Linked DNA regions of Homo sapiens. The protein of the gene in region 1 interacts with the protein of each later gene in a pairwise test. Each region holds a gene or a part of one and is shown on either strand. Other genes may lie near its edges. The genes, in order: PTK7, PPM1K, CTDSP2 and PTPN7.

Region 1 (7,756 bases):
AAAGCAGACAAGCGTTCCCCTCATTGCCCCGCCACCACCCCAAGGAGGAGACAAAAAAAAAAAAAAGCCAGAGTGTCTCCTGGAGGGGAGGTTGTACATGATAGTGCCCATGCGGGCCCCCATAACCACCCCCAGGGAGAGCCCACTGCCCTTGGCCACACAGAATCTCAGGAACCTCCCCACAGCACAGACAGAAGTTCCCACAAATTAACAGAGTCGCTGACTGGGGAAACCCCCACAGTCATCCAGTGATTATAAAAACCCCTCCCTTGGGTATCATAAAAGTCTGCCTAGGCTGCCTGAAGCACAGTTCACTACCCACTCCCTGAGAACCTCAGCATGCCAGGAGAGACAGTGGCCCTGAACCAGCACCAACCCACCCCTTGGGAGAATCTGCTATTGAGACAAAGAGAGAGGGAGAATTCCCACCAGGAAAATGTGGCTGTGTGTGGCTCCCACATTTCTGGGCTGCTGTTGGAATACTGAGACCCATTTAGAAAACTTGTGCTTTTGAATGAGGAAGCCATGTTTTTTTTTTTTTTTTTTTTTGAGACAGAGTTTCGCTCTTGTTGCCCAGGCTGGAGTGCAGTGGCGCAATCTCAGCTCACCACAACCTCGGCCTCCCGGGTTCAAGCGATTCTCCTGCCTCAGCCTCCTGAGTAGCTGGGATTACGGGCATGCGCCACCACACCCGGCTAATTTTATATTTTTACTAGAGATGGGGTTTCTGCATTTTGGTCAGGCTGGTCTCGAACTCCCGACCTCAGGTGATCCACATGCCTCAGCCTCCCAAAGTGCTGGGATTACAGGCGTGAGCCACCGCACCCAGCCCAAATGAGAAAACCATTTCTAAGGCTGCTAGTCAAGAGGGACTTTGTTGAGCCTTTGGCAAACCATTCTAGGGTCCGAAGGCTGGAAATAAAGGCTGACACCTCTGGCCAGGCACAGTGGCTTATGCCTGTAATCCCAGCACTTTGGGAGGCTGAGGCAGGTGGATCACGAGGTCAGAAGTTCAAGACCAGCCTGACCAATATGGTGAAACTCCGTCTCTACTGAAAATACAAAAATTAGCCGGGCATGGTGGCGGGCACCTATAATCCCAGCTACTCGGGAGGCTGAGGGAGGAGAATGGCGCGAACCCGGGAGGTGGAGATCGCACTACTGCACTCCAGCCTGGGCGACAGAGAGAAACTCCATCTCAAAAAAGAAAGGCTGACCCCTCAAAAGGAAACGGCTGGCCAGGACAGTCTCTGGGAAGAACCATCAGGGCTAGCCAGAGGGGCTGCTTCCCAGGGGTCACCCATTTCCACAGTTGAAGAGCATTATATCACAACTTCACAGGGGCCAGCAAGGCAGGCAACAGCATCACTTGCATTGTGCTCACGAGGAAACTGAGGCTCAGAAAGGTTAACTAACCAGCTCAGGGTCATGTGGGTATGCAGCAATTGAGCCAGGACCAGAATACAGAAAAACTGGTGTCACAGGTCTATAGATGTCTCTTCTATTACTTCATCACTTGTGGCTGCCATGTGATATTAGAACAGTACCACCCAGGTTTTCAGAATCCTGGTCCGATGACTTTACATCATTCTGAGGCCGTCACTGACTACATCTATTCATCATTCTGAGGCCGTCACTGACTACATCTATTCAGCAATGTAGGGTCTTCTCTCCTCTCTGAAGCCCTCCCACCCCCTATTTGCTCCTACATCTCAGACTTACCATCCCACACATTCTAGAATGTTCTTCTATTCTACTTAGCACTTTACCAAATGGTGTCTTTCATACTTCATCTGATTCACGTTTCTCCATCTTGTCTTCTTCCTGCATTCCATGCCTCCTCAGACAGCTTCACCCATAGAAGACACTGAAGCACTTTGAATGAACTCCCTCCTAAGCCCCCCACTATTAATATCACCCTTTTTCTCAACACCACACCTCCGCTTCAGACTGATAAATTCTCCTTATGGCTACCCAGTGGTTCTCACACTTAAGCGTAGGTAAGAATCTCCAGGAAGCTCTTTATAAATGCAGTTTCCAGGCTGGGCGTGATGGCTTACGCCTGTAATCCCAACACTTTGGCAAGCAGAGGCAGAAGGATAGCTTGAGCCCAGGAGTTCAACACCAGCCTGGGCAACACAGCAAGACCTCGCCTCTATTAAAAATAAAAAATAAATTTAAAAAACTAGCCAGGTATGGTGGCATGCACCTGTGGTCCCAGCTACTTGGGAGGCGGAGGCGGGAGAATCACTTGAGCCCAACAGGACAAGGCTGCAGTGAGCTGTGATTGCACCACTGTACTCCAACCTGGGTGACAGAGTGAGACCCTGTCTCAAAAATAAATAAATAAAAATTAAAATGCAGTTTCCTTTTGAAATCTGGCCTATGTAACTGGATCAGCTATTCAAAAACAGCAACATAATCTAACAAATAAATAAAATGCATTTTCTGGCCTCTCCCTCAATAATTCTGATGGGCAGGTCTGCAGTAAGGCCCAGGAAACTAAACTTTTCATCAATACTTTGGTGACCTGCCCTATACTCTCCACTCTAATTTGAGAAACACATATCTACACCTTCCTAATATGTAACTTACAATCCCTACCCTGCGACTCGGGACTTTGTCTTCAGAAATTACATACACACCTAAACCTGTGAGTGCATATCCCGCTTATCAAGGCTTACACTTCTAACAGGGGCTTGGGATCTGCAGGACACCTGGTGGATGACGTTCTAGTCACCTGAGCGTTCACTCAACACATACCCCAGTTAATGCACACAGCAGATGAGAGTTTAGCAATGTAAAACCAAGTTGCGAGAGGGGAAAGGCGCCTGTGTGTGTGTCAGCCCTTCGAACCAAGCTTCCTCCCTGCCCCACTGCTGTCTGTGTAACATTATTGGGAGGGAAACGGCCTAAATGCAGAGAAGAAAAGAGGATGGAAAAAGTGACATACTACAGAGGGCTTCCTCAAACCGCTGATTAGCTGTGGCATCTCTCAGGCCAGCTCCACCAAAGCGCCAGGGGGCTCAGCAGTGAACTCAAGAGAATTCCAACATAGGACTCTAACCAGCTACAATGGCAGGACTTTCACACCCTCAGAAGAAGGACCAGGCAGATGGGGGCCAGAGCAGGAATCAGGAGAAGGGCAGGCGGCAGCTCCAGGGCAAGGTGAGGGCCAGTGCCAGCAACTGTGGCCCCAAGCCTGTAACCCCACCACGTGGCTCTGGCCAGGGGTAGTGCCCAGGCACAGCAGCAGAGAGGCATCTACTGAGGTTAGGGAGAGCAGGAGGTTGAGGGACACAGGCCAAGGACACCCAACCTTGTTTAATGACCCTTTCTTCCATCAGGAAAACACCAAAGACTGAATCCTTGGCCCCAAACTGCTCTTGGCTCCAACACTAGAGTCTGAACCGGCCAACCTCTATCCCAGACGAGTCTCACAGAAGCTGCATTGGCTTAAACACAGACTCACACAAACCCCCTCACTCCAGAATATGAAATGCTCCAAAGACTAACAACACTACAGCTGTCAAAGCCCAGCGGAGACATGCCTCCCTTTATGAGCCAAATGTATTCCTGAAAAGTTGTCTGTCGACCAAATTTCTGCCTAACAAATCCAGTTTCTCCACTGGCTTTCGTTATAAAATCAGCCGTATTCTCCTCTAGGAAAAGCTGAGGTTCTGAGAGGAGCTAAACATCAGGCTGAATATTGCAGACTTCCTAGAGTCACACATTTAATGGAGAAATTTCTTGACAAAATCTAATTCAATTTAAACCCAAAGGAGGTAATATTAAAGCGTACACATCACCCCAAGGAGTGTTCGCATAAAGTGAGTTATTTAAAGCAAATCTTCAAATACTGTGCAGCATCTCAGCTCCCAATTTATACTGTTGCAACAGGAAAGCTCTGTGCCTTGAGATTCTGTATAAAGAAGGATGCCTAGGCCAGGACTTCTGGAACTCTGGGGTACAGAGTCACCTGAGCATCTTGTTAAAATGCAGATTGCAGCAGGGCACGGTGGCTCACGCCTGTAATCCCAGCACTTTGGGAGGCTGAGGTGGGCGGATCATGAAGTCAGGAGTTCGAGACCAGCCTGACCAACATGGTGAAACCCTGTCTCTACTAAAAATACAAAAAAATTAGCCTGGCGTGGTGGTGCGCGCCTGTAATCCCAGCTGCTCAGGAGGCTGAGGCAGGAGAATCGCTTGAACCCAGGAGGTGGAGGTTGCAGTGAGCCAAGATCGTGCCACTGCACTTCAGCCTGGGCGACAGAGTGAGACTCCATCTCAAAAAGAATAAATAAATAAATTGCAGATTGCGATTCTGATTCATGCTCCCAGGAATGCTGATGCCACGTGGCCCTGGGTCTTTCTTCAAGTAGCACAGTTATAGATACTCTAGGCCCCTACCCAGTTCTCTGAGGAAGCAACTTTAGCACCAGTTTTTAAGTTGCAGTCAGCTTCATACGTAGCGGTGCTTACCCACGCACAGAACTTGGAGAAAGCTAGAAGACCCACCACATCAAAACTGAGAAAAACCACCACCAAAACCAGCCAGCCCAGGATCAGGGAAGGAAGGTCTGATCCTTAATTTGGTCACCGTAGAGCAGGCGCAAGGAGGAACAGGCAACCCCAACTCAAAGAAGCTGGGGAGGGTGCAAAAGACTCCCCATGCCTAGGATGCAAGGGGATATTTAACTCCACCCTTGATCATTCTGCCCTGCACCCAAATGGTTCATTCACTTTTTAAATAAACCTATATGAGGACCTGTTATATCGGCTGGGTGCAGTGGCTCACGCCTGTAATCCCAGCACTTTGGGAGGCTGAAGTGGGCAGATCACCTGAGGTCAGGAGTTCGAGACCAGCCTGGCCAACATGGGGAAACCCCGTCTCTATTAAAAATACAAAAATTAGCTGGGTGCAGTGGCACACACCTGTAAACCCAGGTACTCAGGAGGCTGAGGTAGGAGAATCACTTGAACCTGGGAGGTAGAGGTTGCAGTGAACCAAGATCGTGCCAATGCCTCCAGCCTGGGAGACACAGGCAGACTCCATTTCAAAAAAAACAAAAACAAACAAACAACAAACAAAAAAACCACCTACATAAGAACCCATTATAAATAAGTACTGTACTAAACTCTATGGGAGAGCCCCTCAGTAAATTAAAACAAAACCCAATAGGGGCAAAAATATGGATGGTGTCGCAAGAATGACAGTCCAGAAGTTCTACAGTGTCTACCTTCTGGCAGGAGAGATAGGACAGCTTCAGGGAAGAAGAGGCGGTGGGGCTGGGCAACAGAGAGACAGGAGAAGGCAATGTACAACCGGGGACTGGCCCGAAGGAAAGAAAGGTGGGAGAAAACCAGATATGTGTTAGGAGATGGCAAATATTCCAGCTGGACTGGAATGGAGGGTCCCAGTAGGTAAAATGTCTATTGTTGGGAATGACTGTAAAGCTGAAGGAATCTTTGAAGCACACCACAGAGGGAAGACCAAGAAAGGGCTGTGTGTGTGTGTGTGTGTGTGTATTTTTTTTTTTTGAGACGGAGTCTCGTTCCGTCGCCCAGGCTGGAGTGCAGCGGCGCGATCTCGGCTCACTGCAACCTCCACCTCCCGGGTTCAAGTGATTCTCCTGCCTCAGCCTCCTGAGTAGATGGGATTAGAGGTGTGTGCCACCACACCCAGCTAATTTTTGTATTCTTAGTAGAGACGGGGCTTCACCATGTTGTCCAGGCTGGTCTTGAACTCCTGACCTCAGGTGATCCGCCTGCCTTGGCCTCCCAAAGTGCTGGGATTACAGATGTGAGCCACTGCACCCGGCCTACTTCATTATACTTAATCCTCAGCACAACTCTAGGATGTCCCTTTATAGAAGAGGCTGAGAAGCTAAGAGGTTCATCCAGGGCCACAGGGCCTGCCAATGAGTCTGAGTTGCTGCTTTGCCAGATATACTCCTTATCCCTGGGCTCCACATCCCTCAACAGAGGATCAAAAACACTGGGGGAAGATAAAAATTAAAAACAATACAACAATAAAAAAGAATACAAATTAAAGAATACAACAGTTATTTACATAGCATTTCCATTGTAATAGGTATTACAAGTAATTTACAGATTTTTTTGTTTTTTTTGAGACAGAGTCTCGCTCTGACACCCAGGCTGGAGTGCAGTGGTGCAATCTCGGCTCACTGCAAGCTCTGCCTCCCGGGTTCACGCCATTCTCCTGCCTCAGCCTCCCAAGTAGCTGGGACTACAGGCGCCTGCCACCACGCCTGGCTAATTTTTTGTATTTTTAGTAGAGATGGGGTTTCACCATGTTAGCCAGGATGGTCTCGCTCTCCTAACCTCATGATCCGCCCACCTCAGCCTCCCAAAGTGCTGGGATTACAGGCGTGAGCCACTGCATCCTGCCCTTTTTTTTTTTTTTTTTTTTGAACTCTGTCACCCAGACCGAAGTGCAGTGACACAATCATGGCTTACTGTAGCCTCAACCTGCTGGGCTCAGGCAATACTCCCACCTCAGTCTCCTGGGCAGCTGGGACCACAGGCACGTGCCACCATGCCTGGCAATTTTTTTTTTTTTTTTGTACAGGTGGAGGTCTCATTGTGTTGCCAAGGCTGGTCTTGAGCCCCTGGGCTCAAGCGATCCTCCTCCCTCTGCCTCCCAAAGTGGTGGGATAACAGGCGTAAACCTGGCCCTTAGAGATGATTTAAAGTATACAGGAGAAGCTGGGCATAGTGGATCATGCCTGTAATCCTCATACTTTAGAGCACTGAGGCAGGAAGACTGCTTGAGCCCAGGAATTTGAGGCTTCAGTGAGCCAAGATTGTGCCACTGCACTCTAGCCTGGGTGATAGAGGAGACCCTGTCTCATAACAAAACAAAACAAAAGTATACAGGGAAGTTGTGTGTACGTTATATGTAAATACGACACCATTTTATATAAGAGACTTGAGCACCCTTGGATTTTTTTTTTTTTTTGAGACGGAGTCTCGCTCTGTCACCCAAGCTGGAGTGCAGTGGCACGATCTCGGCACGATCTCGCCCAAGCTGGAGTGCAGTGGCACGATCACTGCAAGCTCCACCTCCCGGGTTCAGGCCATTCTCCTGTCTCAGCCTCCCGAGTAGCTGGGACTACGGGCACCCGCCACCACGCCTGGCTAATTTTTTGTATTTTTAGTAGAGACAGGGTTTCACCGTGTTAGCCAGGATGGTCTCAATCTCCTGACCTCATGATCCGCCCGCCTCGGCCTCCCAAAGTGCTGGGATTACAGGCGTGAGCCACCAGGCCTGGCCGCACCCTTGGATTTTGTTATTCTCAGGGAGTCCTATTCCAATTCCCTGCAGATGCCAAGGAAGGACCATACTTTATCTCCATTGCTTGAGCTCTGTCCACCACTCAATGCTGCTCTGAACACCAGGAGTTTGAGTATATCATTTGACAAGTGACAAGAAGAGCACCCTTGCCCTGCCACCATACTTCCCAACAGCTGAGAAAAGCCATCACTAATAAAAGCAACTCCTAGGCCTGAATTACAGGCTGCAGAGCCTTGAGGAATCTGCAGACAGCCTATCCCAGAACATGACGACTCAATTTCCCCAAAGAAACAAGAGCCCGGAGGAAAGAAACCAGGGAGGGGGATGGGAATTGGAATGAGAAGTGACCACAGCTGACTGTACAAGAGGTTGGGGTTAAGAATCCATAGTTTCAAACATCAAGCCTCCTCCTCCTCCACCATATTTATTACAACAGCA
Region 2 (8,083 bases), on another chromosome or scaffold:
CAGGCTGGTCTCGAACTCCTGACCTCAAATGATCCACCCTTCTCGGCCTCCCAGAGTGCTGGGATTACAGACATGAGCCACTGCGCCTGGCCTGAAGCTTATTTATTCCAAATTTTTAGAGGTAAATTATACAGGGTGGGGGAAGCAACAATCATATTTTAAAATAAAATCATTGCTGCAAGTTTAATTGCATCCAAGGACAAGATTTCAAATTCTCTCTCTCTCTTTTCTTTTCTTTTTTTTTTTTAAAGAGACAAGGTCTTGCTTTGTTGCCCAGGCTGGAGTGCAGTGGCATGTTCATAGCTCACTGCAACCCCAAACGCCTGGGATCAAGTAATCCTTCCACCTCAGCCTCTCAAGTAGTTGGGACTACAGGCATACATCACCATGTCTGGCTAATCTTTTTTTTTTTTTTTGTAGAACAGGGGTCTCACTATCTTGCCCAGGCTGGTCTCGAATTCCTGGCCTCAAGCTGTCTTCCTGCCTTGGCCTCCAAAAGTGGTGGGATTACAGGGATGAGCCACTGCAACAGACCTAAAAATTCTCTATGTCAGTGTTTTGGCAATTATCTTGGTAACACAGAGAAGGGACATCTGGGCTAGCAATTCAGGACAGAGCAGCCTGAACTGTGGAAAAAATACATCCTAGTATCCCAGGCCCATGTTTTAGGCATGAGGCCAAGAGTAGCCTACAGATACTTTTCTAGAAAACTGCTGATTCTGAGTATACAAAAATGTCCATATCTAATTTTAACAACAAATGATTCATTAGTGAATATTAATAATTCTGCAATTATACATACCACCCACCCACCCAAAGCCCTGTGAATTGTTTTGGGTGTAATTTTCTGATAGCCAGTGGTTTTCAGCAGATGGTCCAATTCTTTAAAATATAAACTGAGCTGGGCACAATGGTGCATGCCTGTAGTCCTAGCTACTCCAGTGAGGCGGGAGAATCATTTGAGCCCAGGAATTCAAGGCTATAGTGCACTATTATCACATTTGTGAATAGTCCCTGCAATCCAGCCTGGGAAACACAGGGAGACCCTGTCTCTAAAAAAAAATAAGTAAATAAAATAAAATATAAACTGAATAAAGAAGTAGCTCAACTTAATGAATGTACGGAGTGCCATATCCCCTTGATTATTTTGTACATTGTGCAGTGATCTGTCATGCCAAGTCAGCCTCTGTGGTGAATTCTTTTCCATTTTTTAATTTTTTGTCAAATACCAAATAATGATTTCCTTTACACATTATTCACATTTTAAAAGCTTTTATTTTAGGTTCTGGGGTACATGAACAGGTTTCTTATACAGATAAACTGCATTTCATGGGGGTTTGGTGTACCAATAATTGTGCATTTTATTTTATTTTTTTGAGACGGAGTCTTGCTCTGTCGCCCAGGCTGGAGTGCAGTGGCGCGATCTCGGCTCACTGCAAGCTCCGCCTCCCGGGTTCACGCCATTCTCCTGCCTCAGCCTCCCAAGTAGCTGGGACTACAGGCGCCCGCCACCACGCCGGCTAATTTTTTGTATTTTTAGTGGAGACGGGGTTTCACCGTGTTAGCCAGGATGGTCTTGATCTCCTAACCTTGTGATCCACCCGCCTCGGCCTCCCAAAGTGCTGTCACCTAGGCTAGAGTACAGTGGTGAGATCATGGTTCACTGCAGCCTGGACCTCCTGGGCTCAGGTGATCCTCCCACCTCAGCCTCCCGAGTAGCTGGGATCACAGGTATGCGCCACCATGCCTGGCTCATTTTTGTATTTTTTTGTAGAGACCATGGTTTTGACATGTTGCTCAGGCTAGTCTTGAACTCCCAGCTCAAGTGATTGGCAGCCTTGGCCTCTCAAAGTGCTGGGATTACAGGCATGAACCACTGTGCTGGCCATGAATTATTTTTGTGGTGTATTTAGCTATGCTTCAGAGATTCAAAACCCAGAAGCATATAATTCAAAAGAAGTAAACTGCTGGCTTTAATTTTAATGAGCTGTGGTAGAGTGTGAAATGGTGTGATTTTCAAAGGCAATTTCAAGGACTGTTTTAGTATCAAAGATATTCTTCAGAACAGCCTAAGTGGCTTTGCTTATCATGTGACTCTGGATTCCAGTCTGTTTTGGTACAAGGATTTAGCAAAGTCATGATGTTCTCAGATGCTGGGCATGCAAGTGGTTATAAAAAAGGTCAAAACTCCAGGACAATTCAAAATATTTTACACTTCCAAGCTTAAAATTTCCCACATCTTTCTTGTTACCAAAATTTTTCACATTTGTGAAAGCAAAGTCCTCATTATCTGCACCAAATTTTGATCCAAATGATTGAGATATTGCAACACATGATACTACATTATTGATGAGCAGATTTTTAAAAACTTAATAGTAACTTAGCTACCAAAATACTCCATCAAATGAAAGCCATCACCAACAGATATGTAGTAGAATGCTCATAGTAGCACTATCTATAATGGCTCTAAATGGCAAACTGCCCTAATGTCCATCAGAAGAATGAATTCATAAATTACAGTATATCCACAGAATGGAAAACAAAATGAATGATCTACAACTGCATACAACAATATGGAAGAATCTCACAAGTGTAATGTTGAGTCCAAGTAGCCAGAAACAAAAGAACACATACTTTATGGCTTTATATATAACAAGTATAAAGATAGGCAAAACTACCTATGCTGTTGAAAGTCAGCATAGAAACTCCCCTTGGAAGAAGGCAGTGCCTGGAAGGCAGGTTGATGGGGTTCCCAGGTATTAATAATGTTTTGTTCCTTGATCTGGGTGCTGGATACAAAGGTGTCTGCAGACTGTGAAAATTCATTGAGCTGTCTACACTTAGGATATGTGCACTTTTTAAGACACATGTTTCAATAAAATTATTATTTTTTTAAATTCCACGCCAGGTACAGTGGCTCATGCCTGTAATCCCAGCACTTTGGGAGGCTGAGGTGGGTGGATTGCTTGAGTTCAGGAGTTCAAGACCAGCCTGGGCAACATGGGGAAGCCCCATCTCTACAAAAAATATAAACATTAGCTGTGTATGGTTGAGCGTGCCTGTAGTCACAGCTACTTGGGAGGCTGAAGTGGGAGGATCACTTGAGCCTGGGAAGCAGAGGTTTCAGTGAGCTCAGATAGCGCCACTGCACTCCAGCCTGGGCAGGAGTAAAACCCTGTCTCAAAAAAAAAAAAAAAAAAAAAAAAAAAAGAAAGAAAGACAAAAGAAAAAAAAATCCAGGAAGTCTATGAAAAGACATCAACTCAACATAATATTACTCAAGGTTATTACTATAATTTGTGAGCCGTCAATATGAGAGTCACTCTCTAACCTGGTTATTAAATGCACTGGATTCAAAACAGTTGTCCCTGGCCTAGAATAACTAAAATGCCAAATCAAGTTAATTATTTATCTTTAAAATCTCTAATCTCTCTGCTCTTCTCTCCCTTCAGTGATATTGTCATAGTTTAATCAAAGTCATCTTCCACCTTAAATTTCATCTGTCATCATCTCCTAATCAGTTTCCCAATAGCTTATTTTAACTGTTCTTTGCACACTAACCAAAGTGATGTAAAGTCTAAACCCAGACCCTTTCACTTCTTTTTTTCGAATGCCTCAATAGAAGCCCATTAAATTTAAAATGTAATGCCAACTCCAAGCCCCTGTCTGCCTCATCTCTCTCACATCATGCTGTTCTTTCCCTCCCTCAATATGCTGGAGACACTTTGGCTTTCTTTCTGTTCTTCCAAAACGCCGGGCTGTCTCACCGAGAGACCTTTGTCTGCTGTCCCCTCTGCCCAAAACAATTCATCATTTTATTGGTTCCATGGCTGAATGACTGATGGTTTAAATGCCATCTTATAAAGTTCTCATATAACAATCTTATCTGAAGTTATCCTCCAGTGTCCACACCATGCCTATTTCTTTCCTTGACATGATTAATTACTATTCTATGTGCTTGCTTACTTGTTGGTTTTCTCCCTCTTCTTTGTTAGACTGAAAATTCTATGAGGGCAGCTATCGTGTCTAGCTGTGTTAGGGGCGTATCCCCAGTGCCTAGCAAATGTATAGCATACAAGACGTCCTTCAATAAACACAGAAATACTTGTTTAATGAATTAATAGACATTCCCTAAAGATCACAAGATACCTGTTCAGCCACGAAGAAGACTGCACTGTGCACTGCTGTTCAAAGACATGGCAGTGAAATCAGATGCCTTTCAAACTCTAAGCCTAAGCAGTATTGGCATTCCGTTCTCGGTTTCCTGGCTGTCACAACTACAGTCCCTTAGCCCGAAGCGAAACCCCCTCCGCGCTCCGCCCGCTGGCTAGGTACCAAGTCTCGCGGCCCCACCCACCGCGCAAGCGCGCCCCCTCTTTGGCTGGGGAGCTAACCTCGGGAGGGCGGGGCGCCGCCGCGAGCCACCACTGGCACAGGGTGACGTCGCTCCGCCGCGCAGCTGGAAGCCTGCGAAGTCAAATAGCAGCCGCGGGGAGGCTCGTTCCCATCGGCATCTGTGACTGGCTGCGATCGAGGGCCCGGGCGGCCGGCCAGCCGTCTCGCCGAGTGCGGACTGGCCGGATCTGCTGTCAGTCAGCGGGAACAGACTTCTCCCTCTCCATCTGGTCAACTGCGGGAGAAAAATTTTCGAGAATTTCCAGCAGGCAAGGCAGTGGCCGCTTTGACTGCTTGCTTCGGAGATCCGAGACGACGGAGAAGGCACTCTTATTTACCGACCAAGAAAGCTCCTCCCCCGTCCTCCGTTAGCTAATTAAAACATTTTTCAGGGACGTAGCCATCCAGAGGTAAGAGCCTAGAGAGTGCAATTCATTTATTTCTGCTAACCATGTATGCTGTTCTTTATTGGCGGTCGCGGAATGGAGAGTAAACGGAGAAGGGTTTCCCGGGAGGTCGAAGGGGAGACGTCGGTTTCCGTTCCCCCGCCCCCCGAGTCGGCGCTTGGCCGGCGGCCTCTCGGAGTTCTCAGAGCGTCGCTTTCTTCCCTTTGGAGGTCGTGAGCAGCTCGTCGGGGTGAGGCGGGGCCCAGCTGGGCTGCCTGCGCCCCGGGCGGCGGGTTTCCAGCCCAGACTGCGCTCGGCCTTGAATGTGGCCGCAGGCTGGAGGGCCAGCGCGGCGCGAGGCGGGCAGGGTGGGTGGGCTGGGACTGGAGACCCTTGCCCGAGGCCCCGGAAGCGAGGATGCTGCGGGGTGGGTGCCGCGTTGCCTCCCGGGCGAGGGAAACGTGGCGACAACGGGCTCGGTACGCCCAGAGGGAGGTTGGGAGGCGGAGACCTGGCGGCAGAAGGTGCCGAGGGAGCCCAGCTATTTGCGAGGCTTCGCAGGCAGGCGGGCGTGTGTTCTTCCCACCGTGTGTCACCCTGACCACCCGCCTGTCAGGGCCAGCGAGCCGAGGCCAGGATCCTGAGCTGTACCCAGGTGAGCTTTTCAGGAGGTCCGGCATCGTGAAGGATGCACAGCCCCGGCTGGTTTTGATCCGAAGACTTGGGTTTTACTTTGCGCAGGGAGCGCTGTAGTACTCAAGGCGTTGTAGCTGGTGATGTCTTTTTCAGCAGCCGCTTTCTGTAGATGAGGGAATTCACCGGATGTGACAAAGAGGCTCCAGGTGGAAATAGCCAGGGAATTTGCAGTCTCAAAAGCTCCACGGGCTTTTCTGAGCCTCCCACTGCTAACGTGCAGCAAGGCCTCATCGGTTCTTTCCGTCAGGGCGGAGGAATGAGGCTGTCCTTCGGTTTCAGAATGAGCGACTAAAGTGACAGATTACAATGACGATGAAAAAGAGCAATGAGACCGGTAGCAATGGCTCACGCCTGTGATCACAGCACTTTGGAAGGCCAAAGCGGGCTTGAGCCCAGGAGTTCGAGACCAGCCTGGGCAACACATCGAAACCTCGGCTCTACAAAACATACAAAAATTACCCGGGCGTGGTGGCATGTGCCTGTGGTCCCAGCCCCGGAGGCTGAGGTGGGAGGATCTCTTGATCCTGAGTGGTCGAGGCTGCAGTGAGCCGAGATCGCACCACTGCACTCCAGCCTGGGCGACAGAGCAAGACCCTGTCTCAGAAAGAAAAAGAAAAACAGCCATGGTTTGTGGTGTTCTGGTTAGGCAGCTGTGGCAGGAAGAAGAGCAGCACGTGCGTGTGTGTGTGTCTGATAAAATACCTTAGTTACAATATTTGAGTAGTGAGTTCTCGCTAATAATTTTTTCTTGCAACCTTAGTCATTACTACTGATCACCCAGGCAAATTCCTTGACTGCAATCCTTAGAGACGAGGAAAGAAGAGAGGAGAGTGGCTGGTGACATAATAGACTGTGAAGGAAAGTTCTTAAAGGCATTATAAAGTTACAGGTTTGGGATATAGTCTGTGGCTTGTATGCATATTTACTAACGTGTCTTAAAAGATATCTATGGGAATAGAATACTGAGTACTTTTCACTGCTCACATTTCACACTTTTCTCCAGTCACACATCTGAACATAGACATATTCACATTAAACCTAAGGGGAGTCCTTTGGAGTTTTTATTGTTGTTTTCTTTTTTCCCCTCAGGTAAAGCAGTAAATTTTCTTTCCCTTCCTCCTAGCAGGGTATTGAGAAAGAAGGTATTGGGGTCCCAATTAGCTGAAATACATTCTGGAAATTTCCATACTATTTGAATTTACTGGGATGCCTTAATTGATTTTCTAAAAAGGTCGATAGGTAAATATTTGGTTTAAGAATATTTAAAAGGGCTGTGTTCTCATTGTGGAAGTTGTAGATACCTAAATGCCACTTCATAATGGGCAGATAGGAATGCTTTCTTAAAATATTTTTTCTAGAGGGATAAAATCTAAGCAGGTTTCAGAACTTTAGAACTCCTGAATAATTTTGGCATGTGCTTAAACTGCCCTTTTGACCTGCTTTTAACATACAAGAACAGTTTAACTCAAATCCAGTGCACCTTCCTGCCAGAGAAAGTGCTTTCCTTTTGGATGACTTGACTTCCAAAGATTGAATATAATGTTAAAATGGTTTATAAAAATAAACTAGCCATGTTTTCCGATCAAAAAATTGACCTAAATCTCCCCTGCTTACTTAAAAAGATTCCTTCTCTCTCTTAGTTTGTGGAATAATGAACTCATCCCAATTTTTAATTGCTGAACTGACAAAAGACAATCCTTAGGTGTTTGCTAGTTTGTTCTCCACTCTTTTTGTTTAGAGAACACTGATTGCTTTTTTTTTTTCCTTAAGGTTTTTGTTTTTCACATCACAAGTTCTACTCCCCTTGCCTTGCTGGTCAAAGCATAGTCATTCCCATGGGCATCGGCAGAGCTGTGGGGTCTATGATGGCAGATCCCAATTGTGGAGTTCTGGAGGAGGAAACTTTTCTTAATGTGCAGGTTTAATTCAAAGTTGTTATTTACTTTGGGAACTCCAGCTGCCTTTGAATTGTTTCTTAGGGAATATGGAGGGGATTGATATGATTTAGTTACATTGCAGATGGAAAAGGACATGGAGCCAGTTCGTAACATCTCGTTTACCTAAGCGATGCCGACCTGTTTGTTTGTTTTTTATAAACTAGCTATATATCTGGGTCACATTTCATCTCTGCCAATAATATGCCTTAAAGTAGGTGGTTTCCTATGACTGCCTGCTTTCTGAGATGATTATAGAAACAATACACGAGGAAGGATGCCAGGTTGATGATTGATTTTAAAATACGCAGGTTTTTAGCCTTACAGAAACTGCTCAATTTGCATTTTATCTCATTTCTTAAAAATGTTTCCAGTGGATATTTGTTCTCTGTGAGAATGCAGTTCTATTTTATTATTTAAAAAAAAATTGGGGGGAGGATAAAGAGGAGATAAAACGGCAAGAATATACTAGAACAGTTGCAGAAAAACTTCAATATTTATTTATTTGTAATTCCAGAACTCTGATTTAAAGTAGGTGCATGACTGCAAAGTAGCTCAAGGCTGAATATGGCATATATACTTTCAGACCGAAGCCAAAAGAATAGTATTTTGCTAATCTCAAGTTAACTCTTCAAATACAAATATTTTCTAATAATTGTATTTCTTTAAAGT
Region 3 (8,121 bases), on another chromosome or scaffold:
GGCAAGGCATGGAGATGGGATGTTGTGGAGAGGACGGAGTGGGGAGAAGAAGGAACTCCAAAAGGAGCCAATTAAAACATCTGCTTCCCCAGTCCCCCAGCTTTTGTTTTTTGTTTTGTTTTGAAGACGTAGGTTTTGTTTGTAAATGATGTGGGACTCAGAAAGTTGGTTTAGTGGTTGCTGGGTGCCTAAGCAGCCCAGGAAGAAAGTCTGTCTTCTCTGGAATGCAATCAAATTACATGGGGAGGGGCCGGGCGCGGTGGCTCACGCCTGTAATCCCAGCACTTTGGGAGGCCGAAGGGGGCTGATCACCTCAGGAGTCGAGACCAGCCTGGGCAACTGGCGAAACCCCTGTCTCTACTAAAAAATACAAAAAAATTAGCCAAGCGTGATGGCGCGCGCCTGTAATCCCAGCTACTTGGGAGGCTGAGGCAGGAGAATTGCTTGAATTTAGGAGGCGGAGGTTGCAGTGAGCTGAGATTGCGCCACTGCACTCTAGCCTGGGCAACAGAGTAAGACTCCATCTCAATTAAAATAAAAAATTACATGGGGAGGGAGAGACCCAGTGGCTGCTGGCTTAAACCACACACACAAAAAAGGAGAAACATTAACTCCAAGAAAATCCAACACCAGCAACTTAACACTGTCAAGCCAGTTGCTTTGCTTTCTGCTGTTATCTATTCTGTAGCCTGCCATTCACCCTGGTGGATGAAACTTCCAGCTCTGATTTCTAAGATGCCCCGGCGCAGTCCAGCTTTCCCTTACTCCTCGCGTGGCCCCACGATGCCCAAGGCACACTCCCTGCAAGAGAGTCCCTGCAAGAGAGGAAGACCTAGTGGGGAAGCACAGGGCTCCTCCCCCTACTCATCACCACTGCCCCCTCTTGAATCCCCCCACATCTAGGTTTCTTCCCCTCTGGCTAGCTCTTAGGGTCTTTTCCTGGGATAAAAAGGGAGTGGGAAGAGTCAGGAGTGAGCTATAAACACACGCAGGCTCCCTTCCTTTTTCAGCCATCAGCACAGTTGAGCAGCCAGCAGAGGCGGTGAAGTTGCTGCCTGGGTCACAGCCTGGTTAGTGATGCAGCCAGGAGAGCAGAAATCATGGCAACACCGAGGTCAGGGAGGCCGGAGCCTTCTCGGGGGTTGGGATCTGAGTAGGCAAGGCCATCCCTTCTCAGGGCAGGCTTATTTAAAGTCCGGCCAGTGATGCAAGAGGAACACACTGCCTCCCTCCCCCCACCCTTCCCCCCTCCCAGCTCCTCTCGTTCCACTGAGGGAATTTGGGAGAGGCTGACACCACCAACTCAGCGGATTTGCCCCTAGGGAAGTTGGGGGAGCTCCTTGGAACGTGAACCCCAGGAATTAGTGACCTGCTGACTAATGTTGCCAAACGGGGAGACGTGGGGCGCACGAGGCCCCGAAGCTGGCCGCCCACCAGGCTCTAGGCCTCAGTGTGTTCAACTGCAGCACCGGCCCTTCGCGCTCGGTGGAGAAGGGGAGGGAGCGCTCCGGCTTCGGCCCCAGGAGCCAGCTCCCGCCCCAGCCTCCGGGGCCAGGTGGCCCCGGTCGGGGGGCTCTCTAGAGAAACGCCACACTCGTCCTTACACCCCGCGGAAAATCTGCCGCTATTTTGGACACATTCCTCAAGGCCAAAAGAAGAACGTGGCGGAGGGGGAAAGAGTTTCGAGTCTCCCACTGTGACCAAACTAAGAGGTTCCACCCTCGGGCCCCAGCTTTCTCCCGCCCCGGGAGAGGCCTCGGCCTCCGCCTCACCCCCGCGAGGGCCTGCGGGCCCCCTCGCGCCTCCACCTGACGCTCTGGAAGGCGGGGGCCGCCAGCCGCTGCCCACAGAGAACTCGCACTTTTTCGCTGCGCGATTCAGAACCACGCCGGGTCTGATGCCATCCGGCGAATTATGTAACCAGGGACACCGCTCCCGGGCTAAACAAACGCGGCTCTGTGTGTGCAGCGCCGGCCCCGGGGGAGCGCACCGGGCAGGGAGGGGCTCTGGCCGGGCCTCAGGGTCGGGCTTGTTTGCTCAGCGAAACTGGTCAGAGGCAGCCGGGAGGGAGCCCGACGCCGCCAAGGTCCCGGGGCCTGCGCTGAGCCGGGAACCCGCCACGTCTGGTGCGCCAGGGCCCGGGCCCCTCCCCCACCGCGACCGCCCCCGCCTCCAAGAGGTGAACTTGGTCCCAAGTCCCGCCGGACGCCGTCACCGCCAGCTAGCTGCCCGAACGACCTCGGGCTTGGGGGGGCCTGCAAGTGCTGGACTCCAGTCTCGGTTCCGTTCCACCTGGGGCTCCCTCTGTCACCTTCCTAACCCCTCCCCGCGATCCCGGGGCAGCCGCGCGCGGCGGTGAAGGAAAGTGACGACCCCACCCCCAACTCCGGAGGCGGTGGACGCGGAGTGGCCCAGTGCTTCGAGAGCTACCCCTCCGTCTCTCAGCCCCGAGGGGGAGGGGTTGCGGGACAGGGTGACAGCTGCGCCGAAGACGCCCTTTCCGCTCGGGCGCCGGGATCCCCGTGCAACCCCCACGGAGGTCTGAGTGCCAGCCGGGATGCGGGGGCGGATGGACCGGAGGGGTCCAGTCGGGATCGCTGGCTCTAAGCCCTGGAGGTCAAGGGCCGAGACCTGGGTTCGGGGCTGTGCTAGCCCCCTCCGCGCCCGGGGGCGACGCAAAGTTTTGGGAAGTTGCTGCCCCTACCTTGCTTGGTGAGCACCAGGGCGTCTTCCCTCCGCGCCTGGGTGATGATGGAGCCGTGTTCCATCTAACAATCCCGCGGGCCCGGGCTGGCTGGGCGGGAGGACGGGCGGGCGCGCGGGCTGGGCTGGGCTGGGGGGCCTGGGCGGGGGCCCGCTCCGGCTCCCGAGACTCCGACTTCCACAGCTGTTCACATCCCCCCTCTCGTTTCCTCCCCGGACCGGGAAGGGAGGCGGCCTGTACAAAGGGCGGGCGGCCCGGGCAGCGGCTCCCCCGGGTGCCCCCGGCCCCGATCCCCCAGCGGCAGCTCCGGGCTCCTCAGTTTGGGTCCAACATGGAGAATCCGGAGCGAAAACAAGAGGAGGAAATGGGACACGGGGCGGTTTCCAGGCTCCCCCCTCCCCTCCGTACTCCAGATAAACAACCCGCGGCTGCAGCGCCCACCCCCGCGCGCCTCCCGGCTCTCGACTCGGCCTCTTCACGGCCAGCTGGAGCTTCCCGCTGGGGGCTGCGTCCTAGGCCCTGGGACCCTCCATCTGTGAGCGGCCGGGGCTGCGGACAGTCGGGAGCTTTGCTATTTTGTTACGGAAAAAGCGAATCCTCAAGGGGGGTGGGGTGGCGGGCGGGCAGGCTGGCGGGGGAGACTTGAAACCGTTCCGGTGCTCCGATTGGCTCTCTTGGAGAAAAGGGGCGTGGCCCCTCCTTACTATGCGGTGAGAGGACCTAACAACATTCCAGGCGCCACGGCCACGCCCCCGGGCCACTCCCCCCGCGCCAGACTGCGGCCTCCCAGTCTCCTCGGCCACACCCCCTTCCCAACTATTTAAAAGGCCGCTCCGAAGCTCACGTTCTGGTGCTCTGTGCTGGGGTGTTCTTTTCTCGGAGGGCGCACTCGGGGAAGGTGGAAAGGTTTCCCCCTTCAGGGGTGACCAAGACAAGCCGCTAAGCCTAACCTGACTCCAGCAGGGGATGGGGCGGATCGGAAGTTACCTTACCCCCCTGCTTAGCCCTAGAATCAAGGACGTACCAAGTCACATAAAAGTACAACCGTCGAGGCCAGGCGCGGTGGCTCACGCCTGTAATCCCAGCACTTTGGAAGGCCGAGGTGGGTGGATCACGAGGTCAGGAGTTCAAGACCAGCCTGGCCAAGATGGTGAAACCCCGTCTCTACTAAAAATACAAAAAAATTAGCCGGGCGTGGTGGCGGGCGCCTGTAATCCCAGCTACTCGGGAGGCTGAGGCAAAGACTTGCTTGAACCCGGGAGGCGGAGATTGCAGGTAGCCGAGATCGCGCCACTGCACTCCAGCCTGGGCGACAGAGCGAGACTCTGTCTCAAAAAAAAAAAAAAAAAAGTACAACCTTCGAATCCCGAAAGGGGTGTGTGCGTGTGGGCGGACCTAGGACTCCAGAGTATAAGAGCTGGAACTGACCTCGGGACTGTGTCCCCCAAAACACTGAAAATGAGACCTGAGGTGCTGGGCTTTCCTCACACCCACCGACTTACTCCCATTTAGGCGGCCCCGACTCCGCCCCTCCTCCCTACCTCCCTCATCCTACCCCTCTCTTTTTGCCCCCACAGTCCCAGCTTCCTTTAGATGGATGGAGGTCTCTCGGAGGAGCTTCAGCTTTGTGGACTCAGGCTGCCTTCCCCACTTGCTCTTTAGGCCTCGGGGCACGCTCCGCTGGCTACAGCTCCTGGAGTCTCTGCTCAAGGTTGTGGGTGCTTTTGTTCCCCAGCGGTGGTAGCTCCAGAAAGGCTGGTTTCAGCTCAATATCAGGTCTTTTCCAGTGATCTACATCTGTCCACAGGTGACATGGGCTGCCTTGGGACAATGGTAGCTGTTCAAGTCAAGGCCGGCAAGAGTGGTGTAGAGTGAGATTGCACTGGGTGACTTCTGAGCTAAATCCAACCCCAATATTCTGTGATTCAGTGGCACTCACCCTGCCAAGGAAGGGGCTTCCTTCCTGCTGCAGTTCCCATTGCCCAACATGCATCAGGTCTTACTGATGATTAGAGGACAACTAGGTCACAGCTAAGCTTGCCAGGTACTATCAGACACCTGCTTCCTATGGTCCCTTCCTCATGAGGACAGGTGAGGTCATGATCTGCATATGCCTGTGTGCCATACAGTGATCATGTGTGCCTGTTTCTGCTGTTCCTACGCACGTATACAAAACCTTTTTATATAACATCATTTTAATGGAAATGCTGTTTTTCCAAAATGAAAGTGGCTGTTACAGATCTGAATGATGCTTATGTAACTTTAAACACTGAATTTGGGTAGATCTTAATTCATTAACAGAAAGGGAAACGGAGGAGTTCTGACATACCCACCTCCCATCATTAAAACAATAGGATCTTTAAGGTAAATCTTCAATAGTCAGGTTGCTATGGGGGCCTTTTTAGACCCTTCCCCTGCCCTCTTCTAAGGTAGATTAGTTGCAGTGGGAGGAATGCAGGCAGGAGCTGAGGACTGAGGATTTAGAGGGGCCTGCTACCCATAGCACTGTAGGGCAGGACACTTCACTTCGTTATGCTTCCATTTCCTCATCCATAGAGACAATACCTCCCCTTTTGTAATTTACAAAGTACTTTCACATATATTATCTATTTCATTTGATCTCTCACTTCTTTGAGGTTGATAGAGCAGATATTATGCCCATTTTTATAGATGCCTGTTTTGTAAATGAGGAATTGGTCTGGGAAGGTTAATTGACTCACCTGAGACCTCACAGCTTGTTAAGAAGAGGAGACAGGATGTCTTTGGACTTTAAGACTAGAACCCTTGACACTTTAACATAGTTCCCTTCTTATCTATAGGATGGAGGAGACACTAGAACCTATCGCTCTCTTTTCCTGCTGTGAACTCCAATTGCATCACCTCTCCTGGAAGCCCTCCCAGATGCCCGCCCTCATGTCAGGGTTTTATAGCCTCATACATACTCTCTCAGACCACTTGGCACCCTATCTTGCAACTGTGTGCTTATTGGCTTCCCAACCAGAAGGTGGATTGAGACTAGGGGATGTCTTATTCTTTACTGGATTTCTTGTGCCTAGCAGAGTGCCTAACACAGAACAGGTGACTTGTACATGTTGAGATGAAGTCTCACTCTGTTGCCCCAGCTGGAGTGAAGTGGCGTGATCTTGGCTCACTGCAACCTCCGCCTCCCCGGTTCAAGCAATTCTCCTGCCTCAGCCTCTTGAGTAGCTGGGATTACAGGCACCTGCCACCATGCCCAGCTAATTTTTCTATTTTTAGTAGAGATGGGGTTTCACCATGTTGGCCAGGCTGGTCTCAAACTCCTGACCTCAGGTGATCCACCTGCCTCTTGGCCTCCCAAAGTGCTAGGATTACCAGTGTGAGCCACCATGCCTGGCCTTGACTTTATGTCTGAACCAGTGTTCTTTTGTCCAGGGATTTGTTCAGTGACCTACAGCAAGAAACACATTTTATGTTGTGAGATAAATGATACAAAAGTTTCATGGACAATACTTACCCTGGCTATGTGTGCACACTCATATTTTCTATTGCACGTATTGTGTTCTATTTGATGGTTTTAAGGTGCCAGCCATGACCTTTTAAATTGAATTCACAAACCACCACCGGATTGTGACCCAGTGTTAAAACAATGCTACTTTCACTCCTGGATGCAGTAGATGCCTTCATGTGTGTCTCAGGGCTCTGGCTGTCCCTGAAAGATGCAGAGGAGATGGTCCTCAAGCATTTCTTGCTCTGAGGTCAAAGAAAAATTTATGTATAACAGATAGAACCCCTTCCAAGGCCAGAGGCACAAGGGTACAAATAGAACCCAGCAAGGAGGGGTAAATGAGGGAGGAGGGGCAGTTCCCAAGAGGCCTGGTGAGGACCCCTGTGCTTCCAGAGACTACAAAAGCAGTGGAGGCGCTACTGGAGCCTGGAACCCCAAACATAGGTGGGGCTTGCTCTCTTGATGCCACAGGCTTCTCACTGCTCTGTCCACAGATGACTAGGAAAAGGTCTGCACTCTGGAAAGCTCTGTAGGGTCATGGTGGGCCTCTTTCCTATAGTTGAAGTGGTGAGGGTGGTGGGAGGCAAGTGGACCTTCTAACTTCTGCCTAAAATAGCCTCAAAAATAACATCCTGCCTACGGGGCCTGGGCCAGTTGCTGGTTGTGTAACTTTAGGTGGTTCATTTTAGGTGGTTCAAGGGAGATAGCTGAAGCCAGGTCTAACAACTCTCCCAGGAGAAAGCCCACTGACTCTCACTTGGTTCCCTACCTGCTGTATCCCCTTTCCTCTGGCCTCTCTGACTGCATGGTTGGTAAGAGGCAATTTGGAAACAACAGCAGTGTCCCCATTACCCCCAAATGCTAGAATGGGGGGCTATGTGGGGCAAACATGGAGTGGCTGTCCCTGTCTGTCTCCTGCTGTGGCTACTGAAGTCGGACTGGGTGTCCCGAGCCAAGGCTGGCGAAAGGGAAACAGCTGGAGGAGCTTCCTCCATGGGAGATGCCTAATTGCCCTTTTCCCCACAGAAAATAAGTACAAGGTTGGGCTACCGACCTTTCATGATTATCTCTGATGTCACTGAAATATTACTTTTTTTCTTAAAAACTTTTTTTTTAAAAAAAGGAACACATTGATTTTCTTGGTTTTTCTGATTGTCCCTGCAGTCTCAGTTCTGCTTTGTATTGTTCATGAGTAGGTGGATGTCAATGCCAAGATTCCAGAGCTTGGTGCCCTCCTGTCACAAGGCTTGTATGGTATGGTCCTGTCCTGGCTTCCCAGGGCAGAGTATCGGGGCTGAGATGGGGTGGGGTGAGGGAGAGAGACCCAGTGGCTAATGACTGAACTGCTGTGAGGGTGCCAGATGCTGAGGGCTGCAGAGGGAGGGAGGAGCTAGTGGTAGCGGGGATAGCTCCTCTGTGCAACAGCGTGGGAAACCTCACTGCCTGCAAGGTGCAGGCATGCTCATCACTCCAACACCACCGCTTAATTACTTAACCTCTTGACTCAGTTTTCCCTTAAGATGGAGCGAACAATAGTACCTACTTTGTAAGTTATTGTGAGGATTAAATGAGATGATGTATGAAGTGTTTATGCCTGAAACACTGAGTGCTTAATAGACACTATGCTCATCATCATCATTCTCCTTTCCTCCAAAGCTGTTCCTTCTGCATCCATCATCTGCCCAGTTCCCCAAGCCAGAAACCTGAGGTCACCCAATTCTCTCCCACCTAACTCATGCCTACCCCCTATCAGTCCTGAAAACCAATGGCTCCTCCACTCCCAAAGGTTTGTCAGGCCTTTTCCTTCTTTCCATTCGCATGCATGACTGGCTGCTGTGTCAGGGGAGGTTGGCAACAGGCTTCTCATCAACCTTTTTCATTCTCTACATCCCAAATTCAAATCCATTCCCAGCTCTCCTAGAAAATGCAA
Region 4 (4,843 bases), on another chromosome or scaffold:
AAAGCAGAACAGAGTGGAGAGAAGACTGTGGGAGGGCGCCAAGGTGGGAAACAGAGGGGCCGGGCGTGGGCTGCGTGGAAGATGAGTCTGAGCTGAGAGGAAGTCAAGGTTAGATAAGGAGGGCTCGAGGGTCAGCACACCCACAAGTGGGAAACTGTCTGTTGGAAACCACTGTAGACTCAGCAGAAGGGAGATCGTCAAAATGTCCACAGGGACCAAAAGGTGGCCTGCAACAGGCTTACAGTAAGGCTGGTAAGAAATGTAAACTCCTCCCATGCCAATTAAAACCTGCCTCCAGCAGGGCCCCCAAGGGGACTGGAAAGCAGAGTACTGCTACCTGCCTCCATCTCCAGAGCCCTATCCCCAAAATATAGCACCTGCAGGTCCCATTTCTTTCTCCATAGTTTGGGGCCTGGCTCTCATATTCCCTGGTCTCCCATGACCTCCCTGTCCCCTCCCTGGCTATCTCCAGTGCAGGGATTGGCCGGACGGGCTGCTTCATCGCCACGCGAATTGGCTGTCAACAGCTGAAAGCCCGAGGAGAAGTGGACATTCTGGGTATTGTGTGCCAACTGCGGCTAGACAGGTGGGTCTGTGGGTGTAAACAAGGCCAACAACGTTAACGGATGGCATCAGTGCCTCTGGGCCCCAGAGTTCTGCTAGGCCCATCACCATCAAGCACTCCTGCAAGAAAGGAAGAAACCCTTTCTGCTTAGAGCTGTTTATTTTACAACTAACAACCAGGAAAAAATATCTATCTGGATGGCCGGGTGCGGTGGCTCACACCTGTAATCCCAGCACTTTGGGAGGCTGAGGCGGGTGGATCACCTGAGCCCAGGAGTTCGAGACCAGCCTGGCCAACATGGTGTAAACCCTGTCTCTACTAAAAATACAAAAATTAGCCAGGCCTGGTGCGGGCCCCTGTGATCCCAGCTACTCAGGAGGCTGAGGCAGGACAATTGCTTGAACCCAGGAGGTGGAGATTGCAGTGAGCCGAGATTGTGCCATCGCACTGCAGCCTGGGTGACAGAGCAAGACTCTGACTCAAAAAAAAAAAAAAAAAAAAACAAAAAAAAGAATATCTGTCTGGAATGTTGGCTTGGATGCCTGGAATTAAACATGATATGAGGCAGCAACAAGTAGTGCAAAGAAGATCACTGGGTGGAGGCAGAGCCGGTGTTCAGATTCTGACATCTGTCTCACTGAGATGTCACTAGATTTCTCTGAGCCCCCATTTCTTTTTTTTTCTTTCTTCTTTTTTTAATAATAGAGATGGGGGTCTCACTATGTTGCCCAGACTAGTCTCGAACTCCTGGGCTCAACAATGCCCACTTGGCTTTGCAAAGTGCTGGGATTACAGGCTTAAGCCACTGTGCCCAGCCCCCACTTCTTCTTTATCTAGACAGAGATAATGGCTCCTTCCCCCAGAAAACTGTTGTAAGAAATGAGTTAACTTATATGAAAATGTTTTGGAAATGGAAACTACTATACAAATGTATGGAATCATTATTTTTACTTTTTAAGATTATTAGAAAGAAGGAAACTTGAGGCTCAGGAGTATTCCTGGCCCGACCCAAGGCTTCAGAGATCTGGTTTTGTCCCAGGAGCTGAGTGGATCAAGGAAGACCAAGTGTCAACATGGGGCATCACCCCTCAGCACGTGTAAGGGGCAGAGGACTTCTCTCACAGCAGATCTGAGGGGCAGCAATGAGGAGTAGAAAGTAGAAAAGATGAATATAGGTGGTGGGGCATGGTGGCTCATGTCTGCAATCCAAGCAGTTTGGGAGGCCAAGATGGGCCAATCACTTGAGGTCAGGAGTTCAAGACCACCCTGGCAACATGGTGAAACCCTGTTTCTACTAAAAATACAAAAATTAGCTGGGCAAGGTGGCAGGCACTTGTAGTCCTAGCTACTCAGGAGATTGAGGCAGGAGAATCACTTGAACCTGGGAGGCAGAGGTTGCAGTGAGCTGAGATCATACCACTGCTCTCCAGCCTGGCTATCAGAGTGAGACTCTGTCTCACAAAAAAAAAAAAAAAAAAAAAAAAGTGAAAAGATGAATATAGGCAAAGGAGTTGGCATGTTCTTTGAGAAAGTCAGGACTTTCCCAGTAGGACCACAGGGATGTTTGACTGGAGCCATTCAGCCAGCACCCTGACCCTCCTTCACTCATGGTCTGTGTGTTTCTCCTTGCAGAGGGGGGATGATCCAGACGGCAGAGCAGTACCAGTTCCTGCACCACACTTTGGCCCTGTATGCAGGCCAGCTGCCTGAGGAACCCAGCCCCTGACCCCTGCCACCCTCCGGTGGCCCAGGTGCCTACCTCCCTCAAGCCTGGGAAGGTGGGTCTGGGGAAAGTGGGCCGAGTGATCTGGGGGTACCCCTTGGGTTGGTGTGGGGAAGGAGTGCCTCCTTAGTGGTGCTTGCAGTCACAGGAAGCAGCAGCAGTAAGGACAAGGGGCCGGATTCCAGGTCTTCAACACTGGCCACTCCTCTGCTTCCTCTGTTGGCCCCAGATGGACAGTAAGGGGAACCTCCAATGTCTCTCTGAACTTAAAGACAGGAGCTGGCATTTATGACAGACAAAGAAAGAAGCCCAGGTGTCCTGGTGTTCTCTGAGACACTCTTTGTGAGCTTCAGTTTCCTGTTCTATAACATGAACATAAGTGCTTAGCTGCCATGAGGGAAAAGTAATGAGAGAAGTTTCTAGAAGCCACTCCAGCCACTCCTTCCTGGGGCTGACAAAAGGGTGATTCCAAGATCATCCTTCACCCGAGGTCCTGCCCAAGCACAGGCCAGATGCAAGAATGGGGAAAAGTCTGGTCCTGATCTCCAAGTCTCAACATCCTATCAGTGACTCTGCTCCCTGACCACACATCGGAAGGGCTGGATGACCCCAATCAAAAGAAAGAACAAGGACTCTGGTTACCCTTGCCTCCACCCATGTGTCATAAGAGTAGGCTACAGAGGTGACCAGGCCTGGCAGTTGAAATCTCTGGAAGAGGGAACATGTGGGGACTACTCAGAGGCAAAGAGGAGCTGCTCCTGCCTCCATGGTTGCTGGCCACTCCCACCAACTACTCTTAGGGAGGCTAAGCAGTCTCTGTTTTGCTTCCATGGCTCAAATAATACCCTGGGTATGCAGGACCCACTATACCTTGCATTTGCTGAGTACACCTAGAGAGCTTGGCTGTTTCCAAAAACAATCAGGGTCATAACCATCCATGCAGACATGGAGGCTCGGCTGAACCAGGACTCCTCACTGTCTACCTGAGAGAATGAGCACCCCTCATCCATCTCAGCATCAACACAATTTCCAGGGGACCTCAGGTCTACCTCAGGACTGAACGCCACACCTCAGGATTCCTCCTCCTTGAATCTGAGACTGGCTGCCCATTCTGAGATGGGGATGAAGGTAAGATGCCGCATCACCAGGCACGCCGCCCCTGACAGCTGCCTTGATACCAGCTCTCTGTGGAAACCCCCGAGGAGTTGGATCTGGAGAACAGCTGGGCCTCCTCACTCAGGACTTCTCTCCTGAAGAACACGCAGTGCTAAAACTGAGGATGATTTCCCTAATGCTTCTGCTTGGCCTTATGGAGGAGCTGCTCCTTCCTTACAGCCTTGGGGATGGACTTGCCCACACCTCCACCTCCCCTGAGCCCTGTGAGAGGCACGACTGTCTATGCCAATGAGGCTCGGTGGGGGGCTCTCAAGTGCCTGATCCTGCCCTGGGCTCAGAGCCAGCCCAGAGGGAAGCAACTGCACAGCCCCACAGGCCCTCCCTGGCACTGTCCCCCCAACCCCATCTCAGAGCTCAGAGGGTACAAGCTCCAGAACAGTAACCAAGTGGGAAAATAAAGACTTCTTGGATGACTGACTCATTCCTTCTTTCCATCTTCTTCTTGGCCCTCTGGGGCCTCTTTGTAGCAAGAGAGAAAGACTGCAGACCAGGGACAGGCAGGCTGCAAATCTTTGCCCTTGGGATATGCACTTTTCTAGCACTTCCAAGGACATAAAGTAAGGTGAAACCAAAGTCAATTTAGGAAGTGAGACAGGGTGGACCCTCATAGCCTACCCAGGCAGCTGTAACAATTCACACTACCGTAAACCATGTGGCTTCTAAACAACAGAAATGTATTGCTGGCCTGGCGTGGTGGCTCATGCCTGTAATCCCAGCACTTTGGGAGGCCGAGGCAGGCGGATCACGAGGTCAGGAGATCCAGCTAACACAGTGAAACGCTGTCTCTACTAAAAATACAAAAAATTAGCCGGACGTGGTAGCACACACCTGTAGTCAGCTATTCGGGAGGCTGAGGCAGAAGAATTGTTTGAACCCTGGAGGTGGAGGGTGCAGTGAGCTATCATGCCACTGCACTCCAGCCTGGATGACAGAGCAAGACTCCATCTCAAAAAAAAAAGAAAAAAGAAAAAAAGAAATGTGTTGCTCACAGTTCTGGAAGCTGGGAAGTCTAGGATCAAGACCCTTGCAGACTCAGTGTCTGGCTATTAGGCAGAGCCTTCTTTCTGTCCTTGCATGGTGAAAAGGTTGTGGGCTGGTATTCTTCCCCCTAATCCCACCGGCCCCCTTTATAAGGCTCTACCCTCATGACTTAATCACCTCCTAATACCATCACTTTAGGGATTAGGACTTCAACCTATGAATTTGGGGGGACACAAACATTCAGTCCATAGCCTTTATCTTAGGAGCTAGAGGAGGACTTATAAAGGGCAGAGGTTAGAAAGATGGTGCTTAATAAACCAGAATATTGGCCAGGCTCATGCCTGTAATCCCAGCACTTTGGGAGGCTGAGGCAGGCAGATGGCTTGAGCTCAGGGCTT

What was found.
Region 2: the proteins of PTK7 (region 1) and PPM1K interact in a two-hybrid assay, tested with the Homo sapiens proteins (one study listed by BioGRID and IntAct).
Region 3: the proteins of PTK7 (region 1) and CTDSP2 interact in a two-hybrid assay, tested with the Homo sapiens proteins (one study listed by BioGRID and IntAct).
Region 4: the proteins of PTK7 (region 1) and PTPN7 interact in a two-hybrid assay, tested with the Homo sapiens proteins (one study listed by BioGRID and IntAct).

The regions. Positions count from the first base shown.
Region 1 is NC_000006.12:43,078,727-43,086,482, reverse strand, and holds part of PTK7 (inactive tyrosine-protein kinase 7 isoform a precursor), read right to left. Parts: intron 1-7,756. UniProt on the Homo sapiens protein: Inactive tyrosine kinase involved in Wnt signaling pathway. Component of both the non-canonical (also known as the Wnt/planar cell polarity signaling) and the canonical Wnt signaling pathway.
Region 2 is NC_000004.12:88,281,128-88,289,210, reverse strand, and holds the start of PPM1K (protein phosphatase Mn(2+)-dependent 1K), read left to right. Parts: upstream 1-4,649; 5' UTR 4,650-4,805; intron 4,806-4,985; exon of another isoform or gene 4,986-5,436; intron 5,437-8,083. UniProt on the Homo sapiens protein: Serine/threonine-protein phosphatase component of macronutrients metabolism.
Region 3 is NC_000012.12:57,843,668-57,851,788, forward strand, and holds the start of CTDSP2 (carboxy-terminal domain RNA polymerase II polypeptide A small phosphatase 2), read right to left. Parts: upstream 3,063-8,121; 5' UTR 2,769-3,062; coding exon 2,705-2,768; intron 95-2,704; exon of another isoform or gene 1-94. UniProt on the Homo sapiens protein: Preferentially catalyzes the dephosphorylation of 'Ser-5' within the tandem 7 residue repeats in the C-terminal domain (CTD) of the largest RNA polymerase II subunit POLR2A.
Region 4 is NC_000001.11:202,146,054-202,150,896, reverse strand, and holds the end of PTPN7 (tyrosine-protein phosphatase non-receptor type 7), read left to right. Parts: intron 1-472; coding exon 473-586; intron 587-1,524; coding exon of another isoform or gene 1,525-1,662; intron 1,663-2,197; coding exon 2,198-2,291; 3' UTR 2,292-3,881; downstream 3,882-4,843. UniProt on the Homo sapiens protein: Protein phosphatase that acts preferentially on tyrosine-phosphorylated MAPK1. Plays a role in the regulation of T and B-lymphocyte development and signal transduction.